Linked DNA regions of Homo sapiens: region 2 is linked to region 1. Evidence: fine-mapped expression QTL. A gene starts in region 1. The other region holds a variant in brackets. All regions are shown on one strand. Distances are between the middles of the regions.

Region 1 (11,867 bases):
ATTTTAAAACCAGGAGCAATACCAAACCCTCAATGCTTTATATTTCATTGCAATTTCACAATTGATTTTCTAAAAACATTAGAGAAAATGAGTCTCAAGAACTTACTGTGCATCCATCATGTAAATTACCCAAACATGTTACATATTCATTGTTTATTGAGTCCCATAAACAATACAGAAGACTTCCTACAAGAACACACACTTCATGTTGTTTATTCCAGTGCTAGTTTGTTTTAACTTAAAATGATAATACCAAGGCACTGTCAGCTTACTGAACATGCAACCTTGTCCCAATCACTCTGTTTCAAATCTTTCCAAGAGTAATCTAGTTTGGGCAGGATTCCTGTGTTTTCCTGTGTGATTATCTCCTTTATATACCTCTGATGAAGCGATACAGAAGTAAATACAATTGAGAATAGAATGTACAAAAGCAAGCCTGTTTTCCCTGACCTAATCTTATATATGAAAAGGAACCTGACTGAATACAATTCTCTGTCAATAGCAGCTGATTGTTTACGACACAGTACCCCAAAAATTTCATCATAAATTAAGTTTAAAGTTGATTTTTAAAAAGAAAAAAAATAAAACAGAAGCCTAGGTTTCCTCCCACCCCAGTTCTCTGGCACTCAGCAAAAAGTAACACATCCTGCTCTATTGATAAGACCACAAATGAACAGTAGAGCTACATAATGTACAGTTCTAACTGGCCAGCTTCTAAAAAAAAATGAAGGATTCCTTCCAACTCCCATTAATGCACTTGATACAAAGAGAACATGTTTCAGCAACAAATACATTTAGGACTTGATGTTTTACAGAATCTACTGAAGGCTCTGGCCATAGGGGGAAAAAAAAATTTCCAGGATATTAAATGTTCTGACTCACCATCTAACAGAAGTACAAGCAAAATGCAAATGCAAATTGAATGTATACATATTTATGACTTTACCAGCTGCATGACAAGGCTACCTTTGGCTTCTGGCTTTATATATCAGGAAGAGAAGTTGAGAATACCAGCATACATTTGTGTTTCTTTTCCTTTCTTTTCTGAGACAAGGCCTTGCTGTGTCACCCAGGCTAGAGTACAGTGGTGCGATCATAGCTCACTGCAACCTTGAACTCCTAGGCTCCAGTGATCCTCTCACTTCAGCCTCCCAAGTAGCTGGGACCACAGGCACGTGCCACCATACCCAGCTAATTTTTTATTTTTGCATAGATGGGGTCTTGCTATGTTGCCCAGGCTGGTCTCAAACTCCTGGGCTCAAGTGATTCGCCCACCTCGGCCTCCCATGGGATTACAGGTCTTTGGTTTCTATTTGAACAGTTTCCTCTCTCCCAGCACTGATTGGAGCAAAGTATTATTTCTGAGTCTGGTGATGCACATAAGCCAGAAGAATCATAGTGAATAGATAAAAACAAACATTTTGGCCGAGCACAGGGTCTCACACCTGTAATCCCAGCACTGTGGGAAGCCGATGCCTGTGGATTGCTTGAATCCACGAGTTACAGACCAGCCTAGGCAACATGGTGCAACCCTGTCTCTGCCAAAAATACAAAAATTAGCCAGGCATGGTAGTGCGTGCCTGTTGTTGCAGCTACTCAGGAAGTTGAGGTGGGAGGATTACCTGAGCCTGGGGAGGTTGAGGCTGGAGTTGGGCCACTGCACTCCAGCCTGGGAAACAGAATGAGACCTTGACTCAAAAAACAAAAAAAAAGTAAAGAGAAAAAAACATGTTATTTTTAATGGCATCTGCTTGGGCAAGAAAACTTAAACATATAAATGCTAAACCATTTTCAAATGTACTAACTCTCTAATAATGATAGTAAACAGAAGTTTTCTGTTAATCTCTATGATTTCTAAAAGTCAAAACTGTACCTTCACCATAGAACTCCTGGGACAAACTCAAATATGAACCTTCTTAAGAATTCCACATTGATCTTGGTCCTCCTGCTATCATCTTTGTGACCATAAGTAAGTCAATTCACCTAAGTTTTAGTTTTCTTACCCATAAACGGTACTTCTAAACTAATTAATATTTAAATTCTTTATCAGAAGGAAACATACATCAATCCCCAATGTAAATTGCAGATCCATTAATAATATTTAAGATCACTATATTCTTTCTTATCATTCTTCCAAACATAAAAACACTACTTGTCTGTATATAAAGAGGAGGAGTAGAAAGAGAAGATTGTTAAAAGGAACAGAAACTAGGTTGGTTTTGTTAACTAGGTTCCCCCTCTGAAACCACGAGACAGTATTAGCATCTCCTGAAATTTATTCAATACCCTGTTTTAAAAACAGAATGGTTGGTTTCCCCATGTCAAGACATACCCTTTCATAAAATGGGACAAGTCAATTTCTAGGAATGTATCTTTCAGCAGCTGTAATACTAACAACTAAAGGGGCGGGGGGGCGGCAAACAAAAGAGCATAACATAGATGACATGAGTCTACTGTCTAGGGAGAAAGAAAAGCTCTTCCCTATATGATGCCTTCAGAAAAGAGAGCAACAATGGGCTCTGTACCCGCCAGCTTCAGGAGGCACATGCCTGTAGGCAAATTATCTTATGTGTTGGGAATTTACATGGTAAGATGCTTTCTATGTTTTACAGCATATGTTTTCCTTATGAATGACTTCATTCACCCCCTTCATTAATTCAACAGCTATTTACTGAGCACTTACTTTATGCAAACCATAAAGCTAAAAAAAAAAAGTTATGAGCTTACAATTAGAATATTCAAGTAAGCCCTGACATGTACCTTACAGTACTTTAACCCCTCAGAATATTTTCAAGTCAAACAGTAAACTAAACAATATACTGTAGATGTTAAGCTAAAACGCACTTGTTAAGTTTCATTCCTTTGATGAAGTGGCATGTAGTAAAGGGGGGAAGGGATAAACTAAAGGTGAAAGAGTAATTAGCTAGGTCTCTTAGGTGATGTGGGGTACAAAGGTCTCCTTCCTCTAGAGAAAATGATAACATTGGATTACAAACACATTGGTAAACATCACAAAATGCTAAAGTTGGAAAGAAAAAACATAATTTCATACAAACGTTTTGTTTTATATGTGAGACACTTGAGACTTGGAAGTGATATGATGGCCCAGGTCATACGGCCAAATGTAGTCCCAGAACTAGAACCCAGGTCACTGGGGGCATGCTTAACAGTCCTTTGTGTATTGCAGTTTCCATGATGTGTCCTCATTGCTATCAGAACTGAAATGATGGCAGAATACACAAAGCAATGGACTGGACATCAGAAGATCCAAGTTCTAGTCTTGCAAATGCCACTAAATGAGATGTAAATCCATGGAAAACTCCCACTGCTTGTCTAAACCTCAGTTTCCTCATCTGTAAAATGTAAACAGTAATTTACAGTGAGACTATGCAGACCACAATAAATGCAGAAGAACTCTGCCATTTAAAAAACCACCTTATATAAGTACAGAGCAGGCACCTGGTTATGACAGAAAACCTAACTGTGATTCTAATACCAGCACTTGTTACCTTGATAAATCTCTGAATCTGTGAGCCTCATGTTCCTTCTGTGTTTACATGGTAAAAAGTCTTTGCCCTGCCTCCCTCAGAAATGTTTGGAATTAGGTGAGAACACTCAAAAGAATTTACAAATTGCAAGACACTGATGCAAATGTAAGGTGTTATTATTAAATCTCTCTAGTCTTAACGTGGACAAAAATGTAATGTGGTTCTATCATTTAGTGCTTCACAGTTTTCCTTCTCAGGTAAGATGTCATCATACATCAGTCTCAAACTCACCAGCTTTCTCATCAGTCCTCATAAGTCTCTGCCCACAGGACCATATCAGAACCACCGTTTCCCTCCGCTCAGAGATCACACATGAAACTCACTCAACCTCCCACTGGTTTACACTTGGCCGATTAAGGTTTTTTCCCAGCGTCTCCTTTCAGCTGGGAATGCTCTAGCAAAGCTTCCATGAACACTACCCTACTTCATCACATTAGAGTCCTAATGAAACCCATCCTTACTTCATCACATTAGAGTCCTAATGAAACCAATCCTTTCGCCTTTCTCCACTCCAACAGCTGCAGAACGCTTCAGTCTCTTCGCAGAACAGGGGAGAAGTCTCTGGCTGAATGTGCTTCATTAGAGGGACAAAAGGGGTTCCCCAAACCGAGACTCAGAAGTACTGACACAGAGACCGCTTCTTCCTTGCACGAGATTAACACATTCTGAGGTCCTACCGGTCCCTTAAGGATCATTCCCCTTAAAGCTAGGGCCTCCTGCATCTGAGAATGTCACAGAGAGGTAGTGATGATAGTGGGTGTTATTTCTGATCTGTAACACGCTCCCTTTAAAAAAGCATCAGAGTAACTAGGATTGCCTTGTTCGGAGCCCTGATTTCAGTAGATTCGATGAAAGAATTAATCAATCTACCCAAATAACTTCTCCGGAATAGGTTTCTACTCAGCCACGCTGGGCACCAGACAAGAGAGCTGGGGGTTGGGGGGGATAAGAAATGACAACACGCTCATCTGCATAGATGCCAGATAAGCAGACATTTGTTTTCTTCTGTTCTGGCGACTCCTGGCACCGGCATAGTAAATCAAACCCGGGCATTCTCCCTCCCCAGTGCCCCTACACTCCCAGCCCCTGCCCCAGATGTTGAAGCGTCACGTTGACCAGGCTGGGGGAGAAAGCCTGGGAAACGCAGAAGTCTGTTGCTGCATTTAGACTGGAACCATACCGCACCTGTTCAATCCGGCACCAGCGCCAGAAATGAGCAGAACACCAACTCGCAAGCCCCTCTTGAGATACCAGGGCGCCTAACAAGTTCACCGCTGTTTCGTACCGGGGGAGGGTGGTGGGAGACCTTTCCTTCCGCTGCCAAACTCTGCAGGTTCCCCGGAAAAGGGGAGAGTACTCCTATTTAAGTGAACCCAGAGTGATCTCCGAGTGTCACTGCGGCCCCGGGGATCCGGGTGACGAGCGGGTGGGTGTCCGTTGGGAGCGCGCAGCTGTGGCCCCCGCGGAACGAAGGTCCGCTTCGGTGGCCACGGGCGCCCTCTCCACGTCACCCCCAGCACAACGCAGACAGGCAAAGTGGAAGGGTAGAGAGACCGACGGGTTTCAGCAGAGATGCAGAGCCCCTAAGCGCAAGCCCCTCAGAAGGGTCTAGTGGGAAGGGGCCGGGGACGCACAGGAAACTTACCTCACCCGGGCAGCATTCGGGTGCCTCCGCTACCAAGACCAGTTGCGCCACAGTCTGCAAGTTATCGGGACGTTGTCGCTTCCCCACAGCGAAGGGAGAGCAGTGCAGGCGAGGGGCGGGAGGGGCGGGAGGGGCGGGAGGGCGGAGGGGGCGGCGGGCGGGGCCGGGGCCGGGGGCAACGCTGAGGGCGGGCAGGTGCCGGGGCTGGAGCCGCGGGGCCAAACTCGCTCCGGACGCGCCTTGGCGGGGGCGCGCGGCTACGAGTGTGCAGTGCGCGCGCGCCGCGGCGAGTGTGTGTGTCCCCGCTTTCCCCTTCCTTCCCCGCCGGTCCTCCGGCCAGACGGAGCAGCGAGCGGCCGCCAAAGCCCAGCAGCTCCGAGCGGCTCCACTGCCGGGCGCAGCCTCGCCGCGGCGCGTTCGGGGACCGGGAACCGGGGACCGAGAGGAGCAGCAGCGGCGCCCGCCGGGCTCGGGCGCGGGTTCCCGCTTGGTGCGCGCCGGAGTCGGAGCGAGGCGCAGAGAGAGCCGGCTGCGCGGCGGCTGCCGCGGCTGGGGAGGCTGCAGGCCCCGCCTGCCGGCCGCCCAGGCTCTTCCCCTTTTCTCTCCACCCACTTGCCCCATCCCCGCAAGCCCTGCAGCGAAGGCAGACCGGTTTGCAGCACCTGCCGCAACAGCGGCCGGAGCTTCAGCCGCAGTGGGCTGGGCGTCTCAGCCGGTGTGTGGGGACCGGGCGCCTGTCCCGCCGCCGCTGGCCCAGACTGAGAGCGGGGTTGGGGTGGGCCCCTGGAATTGGCGGGTGCCTCCAAGACTCCAGGGGTTCCCGGCCGTTCTCAGCGTCTTGAAGCCCTGCGAAACAGGGCTGTGGGGATAGGGCGTCCCCTTTCCCCAGGCCACAGAACTCAGCTACGCCTGGTCGCCCGCCTGCTAGACTCTGCCTGAGGCGGCGAAGCCGGCACTTGAGCGCAGGCGCCCCCTTCACGAGGAAGGGACAGGCCAGGATTCCAAGGCGTTGGTTGCTCCCATTCTAAGGACAGCAGGTGTTCCCAGCAAGTAAGACCTACCCAACAGGTAGGGGTAGGCTGGCGAGGAGGTCCTAGGAGAGAGAAGCTGGGGGATGTCATGGGAAAGCGCTGTGACGGGGCTGAGGGCCAATTCCTACTGATAGCGCTTAGTGGGCTGGGGGCACTTGCAACGTCACCTGATGTCAGTCTAGCTGCGAAGAGGGTAGGGGTCAGATCTAAAGGACTCCTTTGGGAAAATGCTATCATGAAAGCTAAAGCTAAATTCACTTAATAGGAACCAAAAGGTAGCGGATCCTTCGCGGCTGAATTGAAGCAAATGGTATTTTTCAGCCTCATCACTTCCTTCCACTTACCCTTCTTTACCAAAAACAACGCCGGTGGAAAACGTGGGATACATTCTGTCTGGGGAATAACAACATTTCATGATCCTTATCTTCAGAGATCTCTGGCTTCCAGTTTCTGTTTGAAGGATACTCCCTTAGTTCTCTGCAAATGAACACCTCTTTTCAGTTTTGTAATCTCTTTGTTTCTCTCACCCCCCACCTTGAGTGAGTCTGCTATGGTTTAATATCAGCCTTGAATCAAGTGCAATAATTTCTTGATAACAGAAGTATCTATTTTTTTTTAGCTTTACTGAGCCATAATTGACAAATAAAACAAATATCTGTTATTCTTCAGCTGTTTTCCCAGCCTGCTTCTTGCAGATGTGGCTGGCCATTACTGAGAGATTTAAGGTATGGTTTGTTTAGAACCCTGTGACTTGGGTCTGGTTTTCTCCTGGCATCCTAGACGCTTCACAGCTCAGAGCAGGAGGAACATACATCTAGTCCAGCCCTCCCGCTTTACAGATGAGGAAACTAAGGTCTCAAGACATTAAGTAACCCAAGGACCAGAACACAGTTTCCCTGACTCTCAATCCCTGAACAATAACTAGCAGAAATATTGTATTAACAAAGTTCAAGATGGGGTGGATAGACCAGTGGTGGAGGACAGAAGAACCGATCAAAGAACCGTTCATCTGACTGGTACGAATCACTGTATAGGGGGCAGCATCATACCGCTGTAACTAGCAGGCTAGTTTGGAATCTGGGAATGGTAATCCCAGTCTCTCCTTTTCCTGCTTCTCAGACTTCAGCTATGAAATCCAGAGTGGAAAATGAATTTGCCTCCCAGGGAGGCGGTGGTAAGTGAAAGTGCAAAGTCAGTTTCTGGTAATGCAGGGGAGATGAAGACAGGTAAAGCCAAACATTGGATCAAAAGTGATCACGCATTACGTATAAATGTCCAAATACATGTATCCATACACATGACCCTTTTCCCATTAATGAGCCTGGTATTGAGCCACTTCTGTAAAGCCCAAAAGCAAACAGCCTTAGGTTTTCAGAGAGAAGTGTCCAACCAGACTGCCCACTGGCTATTTAGAGAGCTAACTTTATGAAGCAGGATTCTAAGGAACTCTACCAAGAGCCTTACGATTGCATTATTACTGTGAATTGATTAATGGAATGAATGACCATGTAGTATGAGACCTGGTATTTCTTCCTGATTCTATCTCCAACTCTATCAACAGGGATTTAGGAAAGTCATCCTGTATTGGAAATAATACAACAACATCAATATCATGAGCAATAGTGACTTGGCCAGAAATTCTGGAAACCTATTTAAAAATCAGAAAATATTCATCTAATTATTTTGCTTAATTTTAAATGTAATTTTTTCAATTGATTCCTGACCTCAGTCCAAAACTTTAATAATGCTATTGAATACTCCTCTAACTATGAGAAACATGCATGGGTTCCTAGTAGTACATTTGATAGTATTAGTGGCCCCCCAATAAATGACCTCCTTTTTTCTCCAAGGTCTTTCCCTCTAACCTTGTAGTCCACTCCTATTCTGGGCCCAACCGTATGATTTACTTTGACCAACAAGACAGTAGCCGGCTTGATGTAAATGAACGCTGGAAAAATGTTTACACATTTCTGTTTCCAGTCTTGGAATTCTGACATCACCAGAATAAGCCTGCTGGAAGATGAAAGACCCTGTAGAGCAGAGCTGAGTCATAACAGCTGAGGCATCCTTGACCAGTCAGCCCTCACTTGACTGTGGAGGCACAAGCAAGTCTGAATGAGATTGGCTAGGCTTGGTCCAGATCACCAGAACCACCCTCCCAACTCATAGATTCATGAGAAACAATAAATGGTTGCTGTTTAAAGCCACTGTTTCAGATATTGATTGCTGCTTAACAAACAATCCCAAAACTTAGTTGCCAAAATCATCAGTCATTTACTATTTTTCATGATTCAGTGGGTCAACTAAGCCTAGCTGAGTATTGCCTAAGGTCACTCATGGTTTTTTTGTTTGTTTTTGTTGTTGTTGTTGTTTGTTTGCTTGCTTTTGAGACAGGGTCTTGCTGTGTCACACAGGCTGGAACAGGCTGGAGTGCAATGGCATGATTACAGTTTACTGCAGCCTTGATCTCCTGGACTCAAGCAATCCTCCCACCTCCGCCTCCCAAGTAGCTGGGACCACAGGCATGCACCCCAACGCCTAGCTAATTGTTTTTATTTTTTTGTGTGGAGATAAGGTCTCACTGTGTTGCCCAGGATGGTCTCAAACTCCTAGCTCAAGCAACCTTCCAACCTCAACCCCTAAAGTGCTGGTATTACAGGTATGAGCCACTGTGCCTGGCCTAGGTCACTCATTTGACGGCATTCAACTGGCCACTGGCAGCCGGACTGAATTGGAAGGTTCAAGAAGGCCTCATTCACATATCAGGCACCTCAGTTCTCCTCCACATGACCTCTCTCTGTCCATCCAGCTGGCTTGGGCTTCCTCCCAGCAAGGTGGTTAGACTTCTTCTATGGCATCTTGCTTCCAAGAGGGAGGAATAGAAACTGCCAATTCTCTTAAGGGTTGAGTTTGGAAGTTCTAGAATGTTATTTCTGCTTCAGTCTATTGGTCAAAGCAAGTCACAAGGCCAGTCAGATTCAAGAGGAGGGGAAATAGACTCTGCCTTCTGACTTGAGGGGTACTGTGTTATGTTCAGGAATAAAAGAGCTGATAGCAGCCATTTTTTGAAGACTACTTCATCCACTACGTGTTTGGGTGCTTTGTGACACCACATCAGATCATCGATATATTCTTCTTAGCTACGCCACTTTGAACCAGTTACACATTCTTTCTGGACCTTTCTATGAAATGCCGGAGGTTGCATTTCTCTAAGTTGCTAATGCACATTTAGCATTTTTTTTTTTTTTTGGTGATGTCTCAAGAGCAACTGAAGTCCAATAAATATTCAGAGGGAACTTGAGGAACATTGGTGAGCTATGGATAGTTCCACCTGTTCATCTGTCCTTTATTTTTTTTCCAATGAGAAAAAAACAGGAATCCAGATGAAAGGCATGCATTGCATTCGTTGACATTGAAGAGTAGAGAAGTAGAGCCAGCATCCTTCCCAAATCTCTAGGGACCATCCTCCTGCCACATTGCCCTCTCTTTCTAGAAACTTCATGTCTAAGCAGACAAGAAAGGCTAAACGCTTAGCTGATGCCCCTGTATAACTTGAGACACTAATTTCAGAGGACCAGTTTACCCTGGGAACCTTACATTCAAGCAAAGGCTTGACAACCTCATATGCATCGCCTTCCTTTTCTTCTTAATTCCCTGTACCCTCTTCTCTTTCATCCAGCTTTGCTTTCTTTTTTGCTGCCTTTTTTCTTTCTTTCTTTCTTAATCCTATCCATCCCCTTGTTCCTCTTTCCTCTCAGGATTGGAAAGAGCATTGAATTAGGAGCCGTAAGACCTGGTTTGTCACTCCAGCTCTGTCCCCACAACAGTGAAATCTGCATTCTTTCTTGGTGGCAGATTCCTTGTCTGCACCATGAGAGAGTTAGACAAGATGCTCTGAAAAGTCCCTTACATGCCTAACATGCCAAAGGAATGTTCCTTCTGCAATACATTTAGTGCCAAGGCTTGGAGGAGTTTGCATATTAAAGACTCAGAACCCTTTAGAAGAGGTGCACTTGTATCTTAAGCCTTCATGAGTGATTTACAATACCTCTCAGTACTTTTTTCTTGAGTTTTTAAAAGCTAGAATATATGCAAATCTACCAGACACATGTCCTATTTAACTTACTGTTCTTTGCCCAGAGGTTGGTATTATCTAGCTCTTCTCAAAACTCATTGATGTTTACATTCAGCTAAGAACAATAAGAAAACTGGAGGCCCAGTGTTAGCAGGCATACAGGTCTGACCCTGGAAAAGTTCTCCAAAATACCTGGTGACCCATCTAGGAAGCAGGAAGAAGAGCTAAGCAATGTGCGCCTAAAATTTCATAGCAAAAACATAAAATTATATATATGGAGATTATAATTATGTAAAAAATAATGCACATGAACGATAAATACCTGGAAAAGAACAATGTTTAAAGTTCTCATGTTAGGGTGGGAGAATTCTTTTTTTTTGTAATATTTTTGTCAATATTATTTATTTTTCATCCTCAGTAACCGACTCAATAGCTGTATGAAGGTAACAGATAAGCTTGATCTAGAGAGCACATGTGAAGTTTTTGTTTTTTGTTTATACTTTAAGTTCTAGGGTATATGTGCACAACATGCAGGTTTGTTACATATGTATATATGTGCCATGTTGGTGTGCTGCACCCATTAACTCGTCATTTACATTAGGTATATCTCCTAATGCTATCCTTCCCCCCTCCCCCCACCCCACGACAGGCCCCCATGTGTGATGTTCCCCTTCCTGTGTCCAAGTGTTCTCATTGTTCAGTTCCTACCTGTGAGTGAGAACATGTGGTGTTTGGTTTTCTGTCCTTGAGATAGTTTGCTGAGAATGATGGTTTCATTCCTACAAAGGATGGTTTCATGTCCTACAAAGGACATGAACTCATCCTTTTTTATGGCTGCATAGTATACCAGGGTGGGAGAATTCTAAGGTTTAAAAAAATTGATGTTATATTGTTTCTAACATTAAAAATATATATACACCATTAAGAATACCAGTCTAATTTCCACCAGCCTGTATAATCTATTTTCTTTTGAATTCAGTTACTCCTTTTCTCTTTAACATTTTTTCTCGTTACAAACTGACCCACATACATACTTTTTTTAAGGTGAGTTTTCACTTTGCCCACAAGTTACAAAAACAACATGAACCAAATAATGATTGATTCGAGGAGTGAACAAGAAGCAAGAGAATATCAGAATGGAGGAGAGAAAGGACAAAAAATAGAGAATTGCCGGGATAGCATAGAGAATCAAGCTGCATTTCAGAAAGATTCTTAAAGCATGCAAAATTTATACACACATTTTCTATATCAAGTCTGAACCTGGGTTTTAAGGAAGTTGAAAGTCATGGCCTTGATAAGGGAGAGAGAACCGTCGCGCCACCCACCCCCACCCTGCCCCGCTTTTTGGTTGGAGAGGCCAGTTTTAAAGCTTGAGGTAGAGGAAAGAGGCAGAAGTGAGTCAGCAGTGTTCCTCAACACACACCAAAATAATTATTGCAATCATTATACCATGAGTATCGAAACAACTTTCCTAAGGTCACAGAAATTATCTCTGGAACCAGGAGTCAAACCCTAGGCTGCCATTTTATCCCCAGAGCAGGAAGTGATCAGCAGAATATGCCCAGGGG
Region 2 (11,867 bases), 31 kb after region 1:
AAACTAGCCAGGTGTGGGGGCGGGCACCTGTAATCCCAGCTGCTTAGGAGGCTGAGGCAGAAGAATTGCTTGAACTCAGGAGGTGGCTGTTGTAGCGAGCTGAGATCATGCCATTGCACTCTAGCCTGGGTGAAAGAGTGAGACTCCATCTCAAAATAAGTAAATAAATAAAAATAAAAACAAAGTTAGAGAGATTAAATGTAGTTGAGGGATGGCATGAACATAGATATGCATAGCAATCATTATCCCTCGCAGCAAACTATTCTTAAATATTTTCCAAAATGTACTAGTATTTATATATTTGATTTTATCTAACCTCAGGTATGTATGTTTTCAGATTTTCATTTTGGGGGGAACACTGCTATACCGGGTGAAACTCATTAATAATACACAAGTCCAAGCACTTCAATTGTATTGAGGTTTCATTATGTTTCCTAAAAGAGAGGGAAAGAATGCATAAGCCAGATAATTGAATGAAGCCTTTGCTAGAGACTTATTTTGCAGCCATCTTCAACAATTCTTTGGTCCTCGTGGATGGGAATGTTTATCTATGTATTTGTGTAATATGTGGTCCCACAGAGTCCAAGCACCTGAAAAATCTAATTAGCCTGGTCTTGATTGACTGTGCATAGGATAATGCCATAGTCCTCAGTCTGCTCTTCGTCTCCTACAGCGTGCTTACTGATATGAAAATGAAGACACAGCAAGAGTTTCCATGAGCAGCTGCCAGACGGGCTTCTTGTGCTATCTTGTCCGTACAGAAAAATTGCCCATAAATAAGGGGGTCTGTCCACCAATCAGGGGCTGGGAAGTAGGCTGCACCCAAGGAGAAATCACAGCAGCAGGTTGTATGACTATAACGCAGTTACACCATTAGAGGCAGCATTTTGCAGCCCTTGCTGGGGACAGCCCACCAGCAAACAGCATTGCATGGTTAAGAACTACAGTGAAAACATCAGGAAGAGGAAATTTAAGACTTGTTTTGTTTTGTTTTACTATCATTTAGCAAAATGTTGCTGCCACATTTGGCACTGACCTTGAAAGTTTACAAAATCCACCCTATAAAATGGTCTAAACTACCTTTTGTGGGAGTGAGAAGAACGTGATTCGGACATTGATTAGCAAATCCAAGCAGAGGTGCTATTATCACGAAGCTAATAAAGCTTAAGTTTCCTGGCCCCTCGCTAGCATGAGCCCCTTCAAAGGCCTTGTATTTGTAATTTTGTGGTTTTCAGTTTGCATTCTGTATCTTAAAGAGGACCCCAGGAGTTGCAGAAACTTTAGTCCCATCAAATCTGGATCAGCCCATGGACTTCAGCCATAAGTTGTCCTGTGGCAGAGCCCCCTAATCGTTCCATAGGATCTATTCTCTTTCGTTAATTGAATGATCTAACCACCCACCCCACTCCAAGTTTTAGAAAGGCATGTCTGCCCATGTCTGTCTACATTTCTCAGCCTTTTTAGAGGCTAGGTGGGGCATGTGACCAGGACAAATTTGAGACAGGGTTTTGCTCTGTTTCCCAGGCTAGAGTGCAGTGGCACAATCTCAGCTCACTGCAGCCTCAACCTCCTGGGCACAAGTGATCCTCCTACTTCAGCCTTTTGAGAAGCTAGGGTTACAGGTGTGCACCACCAGACCTGGCAATTTTTTTTTTTTTTTTTTTTTTGTAGAGATGGGGGTCTCACTTTGTTGCCCAGGCTTGTCTTGAACTCCTGGCTTCAAGGCATCCTCCTGTCTCAACCTCCCAAAATGCTGGAATTACAGGCATGAGCCACTGCACCCGGCCACCAGGACATTTTTGTCAGATGAGAGCAGAAGTAACACGAGCAATTGCTGGGTTTTCCCTTTTGCAAGAGTGTGTGCTCCCCTTTTTTATTTCCCCTCTTTCTTTTGGCTGACAAAAGGCATTAGCTGGGAGCAGCCACGTTGGACCCAGAGACAGAAGCCATGTTCACGATATACTTCCCTCTGCACTATTACTTGAGAGAGATACAAGCTCATGTTTACTTAAGTCTCTGTACTTTGGGGGCCTTTCTTTGACAACAGCTCAGCCTGTGCTCTTCTCTCCCATTGGATTCACTGGGTCAGGGTTTACTTCAGAGGCAATGTGCAACGGAGAGAGTTGGCAGAGTACACCTGAGTCAAAGCCTTTGGAGGGTATTGAAGAGTCAGAAGCTGGAGAGACAGATATACAAGTAGTTAGGAATAGAATCATGATAAAGATTCCCTCTTATTCTCCTTTAATTGATAGCACTGTCATGAAGACAGCGATCCAGACTGAGAAAGAAATAGAAAATTTAGCTGAGATACAATGCAGGTTTTTCTGGCTGTCTCAGCTTTGTCTCTTCAAATATACAAGTGTTCAGAAATAGAATCATGATAAAGAAGGAATTCTGTATGGGTGTGGTGGCTCACACCTGTAATCCCAGAACTTTGGGAGGCTGAGGTGGGTGGATCACTTGAGGTCAGGAGTTCGAGGCCAGCCTGGCCAACATGTTGAAACTCCATCTCTACTAAAAATACAAAAATCAGCTGGGCGTGGTGGTGTGCACCTGTAGTCTCAGCTACTTGGGAGGCTGAGGCAAGAGAATCGCTTGAACTCAGGAGGCAGAGGTTGTAGTGAGCCAAGATCATGCCGCTACACTCCAGCCTGGGCTACGGGAGTGAAACTTTGTCTCAAAAAATAAATAAAAAATAAATAAAGAGAGGATTCAGTCAGGTAACTGGTGGGCTCAGGATCAGAAGGGGGGCAAGAGAGGTAGGTCCCAGAGCATTGGCTGTTGGTGCCCATGGCTTGACAGTGGGGCATGGGTATATTGGGCTGTGGTGTGAAGAAGAGTCCATGAGGAAAGCCGTGTAAGCCATCAGGCTTTGTGTCTCCTGACCTGCACCCCCAGCCTCAGCTGATGGAACCGAGGATGAGTGCTGCTCCTACGCTATGGCCTATAGGTTAGCCAGTCCTGCACCATTCCTCCCACCAGTATGTTCTACTCTGATAGGATTGACTATTGTGCTCATATCCTTTCTCATATGAAGTTTGAATGAGAGAGCTAGAAAGAGAGAGTGAAGAGTTGGCAGTGGGAGTAGAAACCAAAAGACATGAAGGAAGAAGACAGTAAGAAAACAATAAGACAAACTGACCCATCAAAAGAAGCAGGGAGAAGGGTCAGGAGAGGAAGCAGGTGGATGGAGGAACCGAGTCAGGACCATAGCTCACTTGCTTTTGAGATTCCAGAACTTTGGCTGCAGGTTTAAAGCCACTGCTCTACCCTCCACTTCATTAGTTCTTCGTGAGATTCTCTGGCTTTGCAGCTTCTGAAAAGATGTTTTTCCTTCTTTTTTGCCATGGATAGCCTTCAAATAAACCCCTTTAACTGAGATAAACTGTGCTGATTTGAAGAGTCAAAGCCGAGATAATCAGAAAAACTTGCATTTTATCTCCTCTAAATTTTCTATTTCTCTCTCAATCTGGATTCACTGACTTCATGACAGTGCTATCAATTAAAGAAGAATAAAAGGGAAGCCAGAGATATTTTCGGGACATGAAGGTCTGATGTTGAAGTTGAAAAAGTCAGGAAAGTGATGGAGTGTGTCCTTCGCTGCATATAATTTGTCCAGATGAACCTCGTAGCAGAATGACAAGATGTCATTGTTCATGTTTGCAGCAGATACAAATTTAGAAGAGTTTATGTGTATTTAGTCTCACTGCTGGAAGAGCTGTTAGAACATGACATGCTATTCTGGTTCCCTCCTGTGAATTCCTGCTATGCTAGAGGGAGGGGAAGAGGTTTTACATTGTGTTCCGAAGACATCTACTTTAAGGAGCTATTTTTCTGAAAAGGAAAGATGATAGCTTCAGTAATACCTGGCAGGCATCTGCAGAGCTCACAGCCATTTTTACCTTATCAGATTTGTCCTTCAACTCCTTGGAGAGAAAAATGAGTGAGCAGAAGAAGCATTCTGTCAATTTTAGAAAATAAGGCTCTCTAGCATTTCTGCCTGATCTCTCACTTTTCTGCTCAGCCCATCCTCATCTCCAGCTCCCTGCGCTGCTTTGACATCCCTGTTTGCGCTCTGGGACTACATGCCTCTGCACCTCCATCTCCAAGTATGAACATCCATTCCTCTGTCAGCCAAGACTTGACTTAAATTCCAGGTCCTTTTTGAATTGGGGTGGCTGGAGGCTCTTTCTCTAGCTACTGAATAGCATTGCCACGTACCAGATATGGCCTGGGAAGACATCTGAACACATACATATGTTCCCAACCAGGTGTTGGGCACTTAGAGCAGGAGTCAGCAAGCTATGGCCTGGGTGCCCAATCTAACCTACTCCCGATTTTTGTAAATGAATACAAAACTCATTTGGATGAATGAACATCTATTAGTATATAGCCACACCTATTTGTTTACATCTATAGCTGCTTTCATGCTTCAGCGGCACATTTGGGTACTTGTCTGCACACCTAAATTATGTACTTTCTGGTCTTTTAAACAATTTTGCTAATCCCTGACATAGAGGAAAGTGACCATGCCCAATCTAGCATCTGATACAATGAAAACACTCTGAAAATTCTTATGGAGGAAAGGGAGAAAAAAAAGAAGGAAGGAAGGAGGCTCAAGGAGATAAAATGAAATTACCCTCAAATCACATTTTGCACAATGAAATATTAGAACAGGATTCAAATCAGAATACACTCAGGACTGGCTATTTCCAGTAAGCAGGCAGGTGGAGGAGGAAGAATTAAAGGGATTGGAATAAAAGTGATTGTTCTAGTTCACTATTGCTGAGTTATCAACTACTCGGAAATGTAACAACCATTTTATTGTATCTCATGATTTTTGGGGTTAGACATTTGGTGGACAGGGTTTGATTGGGTGATCCTTCAGTCCCATGTAGTGTCAATGGAGATGACTTGGTGGTATTCAGCTGGCAGACAGGCTGGTTTTAAAGGTCCAGTTCAGCTGTACTATATGCCCGGTGCCTTGGTGGGTACGGTCGTAAGGCTGGGCTCAGCTGTGGCGTCTGGCTTCAGGATGGTCAGACTTCTTACATGAAGGTTCAGGGCTCCAGGAACAAGCAGTTCAACAAACAGGCAAAAGCTACATCACCTTTTTATGATCTAACTCCAGAAGTCACAAAAAGACACTTCCACCCTACTCTGCTGGTTGAAGTAGTCATGAGCCTGCTTAGATTCAAGGGGAGGGAACATAACCCCCAACTCTTAATGAGGAAAGATCAAATAATTTGTGGCCATGCTTAAACCACCCCAGGGGAAAGAAGATGGAATTGTTGGGGGCAAGTAACCAACATTTACTAAAGGTTTTAGTAGTTATTTCACTACAACCTTCTGAAAAAAGTATTATTCCCATTTGACAGCTTAAAAAATACATTTAAGATTAAATGACTTAATTAACTTACACAAAATGACTGAGCTGGTGAGTTACAGAGCTGTGATTTCAACTCAGGCATAACTCCAACTCTGGAACTTTTTCTATTATATCATGATGTCTGTCACAGAGAAATGAAGAAGAGTCAAGCATGGCAGACAGGGCAGTGATAAGGTTAAAAGGAAAAGCCCATGTCTTTGCCTTCCAGATCTTGGGAAATAATTGTTGGTGGCAGCAG[G/T]TGCCTGAGTGTCTTTCTGCAAAGACAGAATGCCCTGGTATAACAACAATAACAACACTTGCTGAAACCCCAGTCTGGAAAGTGCCAGACTGATCGCTTCTCCAATTCCTAGTCAGCTATGCCAGGCAGTCTCTGACCAGAGTCACCACACCTTTGACCACTCAAAAGGGTGATGCTGATAAACTACTCAACTATCTCCTATGCAGTAGGTGACTCTCACATCTTTGTCTTCAAACAGATCCTCTCACACGGGCAAGCTCCAGGCCCCAACTTCAAACTCCCTATAGGCCACATCCACTTCGATGTTCCCGAAGCTCAGACTCAACATGTCAGGACACACAGCATCATTTTCTCTTAGCACACTTCTGCTCCTCCTGCCCTCCTTGGTCTCCAGACCTGTGAATCCTCACCGATTGCTCCCTAACCTCCTCCTGAGGGGCAAGACAATATAGTCTGGTAGATTAGCACATGGGCTTTGGTACTGTGCTGCCTGGGTTTGAGTTCCTGTTGGCCTTAGTTATATGACTTCAGGCAAGTTATTCTATCTCGTTGAGTGTCTGTTTGAGATGATAGACTCTGAGATGGCAACAATAATAGTACCTCCTCAGAGCATTTTTAGAACTGAGCTAATATTTTGAAGTGTTTAAAATAGCTTGTGGCACATACTAGGCACGCAGTAAACATTAGCTATCATAATGCTCAATTAGTTTCCAAGTTCTAGTAGTTTTTTTTTTATATATTTAGGGTTGTTTTTCTTACTACCTTGACTATCTTAGCCCAACTCCTCATGACCTTATCCCCATGTAGTTGTGATTACTTTACAAGAGGGGAGACTCATGCCCTCACTTCTTCTCCATCAATCTGTGCTGCACATAGCTAGCTGAAAAATCTTCTCCATTTATTGGCTTCCTGTGTACTAGGCAATACACCAAGCATTTTAGAGATATTATCTATAACCTTTGCAACACCTCACTAAGCTGAGGACTCTATTATTCCTCCTATGACAGATAAGGACACTGGCCTCAGAGAAAATAACTTGTCCAAGGTCACACAGCTAGTAAGTGGCAGAGTCAAGATAAGAAACTTGTTGATGTTCTCTTATCACTCCATACTTCACTCTTCTATGACATCAGACTTCAATATTCAATATATCATCTCCCTGCTTAGGAACTTAAGTAAATAAATAAATAAGCAAATAAATCAATGACTTCAGGGAAGGAGAGCTAGAAACCTTCAAAAGTTTTTTATTATATATAGGATTTCATTTACCCTAATATTTAAGCACAGGACAATTTAGCCCCAAATTAATTTTCTAATTTAGGGCCTAATTTCTAACTGGGACTTCTCAGCCCAAACTCTCTATTCTAGTCTGTCTGACCTACTCATCACTCTACCACAGACCACAGTGCATTCCTGTCTCTGAGTCTTGGTGACATTCACCTAGCTGGATTGCTCTTCCCGCACTACTGCACATCCATCTAGCCAAATTATACCCAGGTCACACCTCAAACCCCACTTCCTCCATGGGCCAAAATAACAGATGCTGGTGAGGGTGTGTGGAAAAAAGAACTCTCATACATTGTTGATAGGAATGTAAATTAGTACAACCATTACAGAGAACCATATAGAGATTTCTCAAAAAAAAAAAAAAAAAAAAACCCTGAAAATAGAACTACCGTATGATTCAGCAATCCCACTACTGAGTATTTATGCAAAGGAAAAGAAATCAGTGTACCAAAGGGATACATGCACTCCCATGTTTATTCACAATAGCAAAGATATGGAATCAACTTGTATCCATCAGTGGATGAATGAATAAAGAAAATGTGGTTTATTTATGCAATGGAATACTATTTGTCCAAAAAAAGAATGAAATCATGTCATTTACAGCAACATAGATGGAACTGTAGGTCATTATATCAAGTTAAATAAGCCAGACACAGAAATAAATATTGCATGTACTCACTTATATGTGGGAGCTTAAAATATGGATCTCATGGAGGTGGAAAATCAAATGGTGGTGACAAGAGACTGGGAAGGATTTAGATGTGTAGATGAAGACAGATTGATTAATGGGTACAAACATACAGTTATACAGAAGGAATAAGCAGTAATATTCAATTGTAGAGTAAGGTGACTACAGTTAACAACAATGTATTGTAGCTAGAAGTGAGAACTTGAAATGTTCTCAACACATAGAAATGGTAAAGTTTATGGTGATGGATCTCCTAAACATCCTGAAGTAGAAGTACACATTCTACGCATGTGACACAATGTCACATGTACCCCATAAATATGTACAAAACCCAAACCAACAAACAAAAAAATAATCACAAAGGGCCTGAGATTTCATAATAGCTACTGGAAAGCTAACAATTTAGCCAGCCAAGTTTCATGGATGCTGGTAGAAGGCATAGAACTCCTGGGTCAGAGACAAAGGACAGTTTTTAACTCACAGCAATGGTAGTAGCCAGAGTAGCAGCATTTTTGGGCCAGTTCTTCAAGTCCTGATGCCCCTGGGGTAATGTGGAGAGGGTCAAGTGACACCAGCACACACAGTAAGCTGCACTATAAGGAGAGGAATAGAGAGAACTTAGGACAGCCTCATGTTTTATAATGGATGGTAAACACGCTTCCCTTTTACTATCTCTAAACTCCAATGCTTGATGCTTCCTAGAAAGACATTACCTCTCTCTCTCAATGTGTTTACTATACAAAAATCCTTGAAAAGTTAGCCAAGAACAAAGATAGTCCATGCCTCCGCTCACAAGATATATGGAAACAAGAATCCCATGAAGAATGGTCTTTTGACACTGACAACCCAGGCTACATTGATGTTGCCTTCCTCTGTGTTTCTAAAACAGTATTTGTCTAGCTTGAGTGATGTGCAAAGCACTTCTGAGAAAACAAATTCTCATAGGCCTCCTAGGGTTCTCTTAAGCACTTATATTGTAATGTTATTTAAGTACAAGTAAGCCTAGGTGTATTCTCATTGTGCTCGTAGCTCTTACATACTAGAAAAAAGGGCAAGGAGTATAAATGCAAACCAAAACAAGAAAAGCAATCAATTTCATATTTACAATATTAAATTATTTTTACAGAAATTATTGCTTGGCTAAAACTAAATTGTCGATGTAGGCTTTAGTACTAAAAAGAAAACAAGTCCATATCTACATTTACCCTGCTCTTGTTTTTTTATTTCAACAATATCAGTGTGAATAATGCCTATTTGCAAAATATTTTGTACAAAACAGTATTAATAACAATAAGCTTTTGTTTGCTAATTCAGGGTTATTATACCTTATAGTTAACCTAAGTTAAAAAGCAATTTTAAAATAAACAAAGAAAAAAAGAAAAAAGAAAACAAAACAAAAAAGCAATTCTAATGTTACACTGCTTTATAGACTCTGAAAAGTTACATTCTCTTAAAATTTCTTAGCTTTACTGAATTACCAAATGTGTACTAAATGTGTTTGTCTAATTTAGTTATTGGTGGCATCAGCATATCTGGGTTCTTTTTTTCCTTGCAGATGTCAAAAACAAATTTCTAGTTTTATTAAAGAGTTGATAAGAATATTGACAGAATCCTGTACATATCAGAAATAGAATTTTATGAATAATTTGATCTTCAGTCAAGTTTTCTTTCTATCGCAGTCACTTTGACTTTACCTAGGATATTTAAACTCCTGTGAAAGCTTTGCTCATCCAGAGGAGTCCCATGTCCTTTGGCCATTCATTGGCTGTAGCACCTCATTTACACTTCACATCCACTAGAACAGTCGCAGCCGTATGTTACTGCTTGACCACAGTATGTTAGTGTAAATGATGGCAAATCTAAAAGTCTCAAGTTATTGAATAACATGAGAGACTAAAATATTACTATAGAAATAGGTTTTGTGATGGCAAATCATCACCAGACAGGATTTTGATATGAGGAGAGAGGTGGGCACAGCCTTCTTCCTGACAATTTGACATTGGAACATAGCTATCCATAATAATAGTGCTCAGACACTAAAAGTCAGTAAAAGTCAAAATCTCTAATTTGTGGAAATTGCTTAACAATTATACATACATAAATGTCATATGCAGAACATACTTAAATCACTTTTTGATTATCCTAATCAGAAAAAAATAACATTAGAAAATTTTTGTTGAGAATTGAGGATCCCCAAGAGTCTGTCCGAAGGCCCGCAGGAGTTCATGGACAAAGTCTGAGAAACCTGTTGCCAGGAAGCATCTTTGCCAGTGGTATGCGCCACGGGTCTTTTCATTTCTTACTTCCTTCCTAGCTATTTTCCATCTCCAGATTTTATTGCTTTTCTGTCTCTTAGAACTGACCTCCAACTCTTCACACAACAAACACACTGACCTTTCTCTCTTCCCTCTCAGTCACTTCCTGCGGCTTTCTCAGCCTAATGCAGCCCTCTTCCTCATGAGTGGCCATTCTTTTGGCATCTACCCAGGAGGCTTAACAACAGCGACTGTTTTCCTCAACTGGAGAGACACTTAGGCACAAAGACATCAAGGGCTTTGCCTGAATTCACTCCTCGGGCCAGGGATCAGGCCCACCTCTTCACCTCCTTTTACATATTTACTCCGATAGGCGGGTCCCCGCAGTCACGATTACACACAGTGAGCACCAGACCCTGCAAAAAGATAGCACCAATGAGGAGGGTCACAGTTCCTGCTACAACAGCTTTTGTTGTTGTTGTTGTGTTTATTGAGATCAGTGGTTTTTAAACATTTTTTTTTTAACAACTGTGGTAAAATACACATAACTTAAATTTACCATCTTAACCATTTTGAAGTATGTAGTTCGTTGGTTTTAAGTACATTCACTTTCCTGTACAACTGTCACCACCATCCATCTCCACCATCCATCTCCAAAACTCTTTTCTTTTTATTTGCTTTTTTTTTTTTTTTTTTTGAGACAGGGTCTTCCTCTGTCTCCCAGGCTGGAGTGCAGTGGTGTGATCATGGCTCACTGCAGGCTCAGCCTCCTGGGCTCAAGAGATTCTCCCAACTCAGCCTCCCAAGCAGCTGGGACCACAGTCACCTGCCACCATCCCTGGTTAATTTTTAAAATCATTACTACTATCTGTAGAGATGGGGTCTCTCTATATTGCCCAGGCTGGTCTCAAACTCCTAGGTTCAAGTGATCTTCCCGCCTTGGCCTCCCAAAGTGCTGGGATTACAAATGTGAGCCACCGCGTCCGGTCCAGAACTCTTTTCATCTTGGAAAACTAAAACCCGCACCTGGTATACAACAACTTCCCATCCTTTCTCCTCCAAGTCCCTGACAAACACCATTCTACTTTCTGTCACTATGAATTTGTCTACTCTAGGCACTTCATATAAGTGGAATCACATATTTGTCTTTTGGGAACTGGCCCTTCCCCTTTGATATAAAATACAATGCACGCACAAACATCAGATTAGCCTGAGACCATGCTGGCCTTGGGAAAGGCCCTTGCTGTTCTGTACTCCCACACACAGGGCTGTTCTCTCTGCATACCTCTTCCCCCCACCTCTTGTCATGCAGACTTGTCAGCTAGTTGAAAGTTGACTCCATTCCTTTGGCCCCCCAGGTTGAGAGTGATTAGATTAGACCTGGAAGAAATAGCTGCTCTCACTGTGGAATAATGAGCAGTGGTTCTTACCCCCTTTTTTTTGGTTTTGGCTAAGAGCTTTTGAGGATCTAATGAAAGCTGTGTGCCCTCTTTCAGAAAATGGCACAGACATGAATACTTTCCCATGTAGCTTCAGGGGCTTGTATACCCTGATTTGATTTGGGTTCCCTCAAAAAGAAGACCCTGAGGTAAAGGATTTGGGAACAAGTCATTCATCTGGGAGGCAATCCCAGGGAACATGATGAGGCCTGAGACAGGAAAGGGAGGAAAGCCGGTGAAAGGTATGCTCATCAGCGGGTACCACTGTGGACAACAGAGGCCCGCTGGCTCTGGGGACCCTCCAAAACAACGTGCAGAACATACCTCAGAATCGTCCCACCGAGGGGTGAAGAAGCTAGGTGCTTATTCACCAACTCACATCTTTTATTGGCTGGAGGTCATAGTGTTAACTCTCAGGCCATCCCAGCCTGCTCTGACCTTGGGCAGGTGTGCTCCTGCAGCCACACAAAGCCCTCAGCAACCAGGAAGGCTGGCTGGTTTATGGAATTACTCACTGAAGCTGAAGGTAACCTCTGGGTGGGCCGAGGAGATGGAGGAGTGGGGGTGGGGG

The links. PIP is the estimated chance that this variant, and not a neighbour inherited with it, causes the effect. A credible set is the group of variants that fine-mapping cannot tell apart.
Region 2: its variant is the best candidate, but not a certain one, in a credible set for the expression of PIP5K1B in whole blood (INTERVAL, PIP 0.81).

The regions. Positions count from the first base shown.
Region 1 is chr9:68,699,089-68,710,955 of GRCh38, reverse strand. It overlaps PIP5K1B (phosphatidylinositol-4-phosphate 5-kinase type 1 beta), which reads right to left and starts at 5,716. Exons shown (of 16, transcript NM_003558.4): 1 at 5,194-5,716. RefSeq lists enhancers at 3,899-4,048, 4,499-4,588, 5,277-6,202 and a silencer at 5,339-5,858.
Region 2 is chr9:68,667,616-68,679,482 of GRCh38, reverse strand. No RefSeq gene overlaps it. Among named protein-coding and RNA genes, the nearest start is that of PIP5K1B, 32 kb to the left of the region's middle. RefSeq lists an enhancer at 9,850-10,402. The variant G/T (reference allele first, on the strand shown) is at 5,628.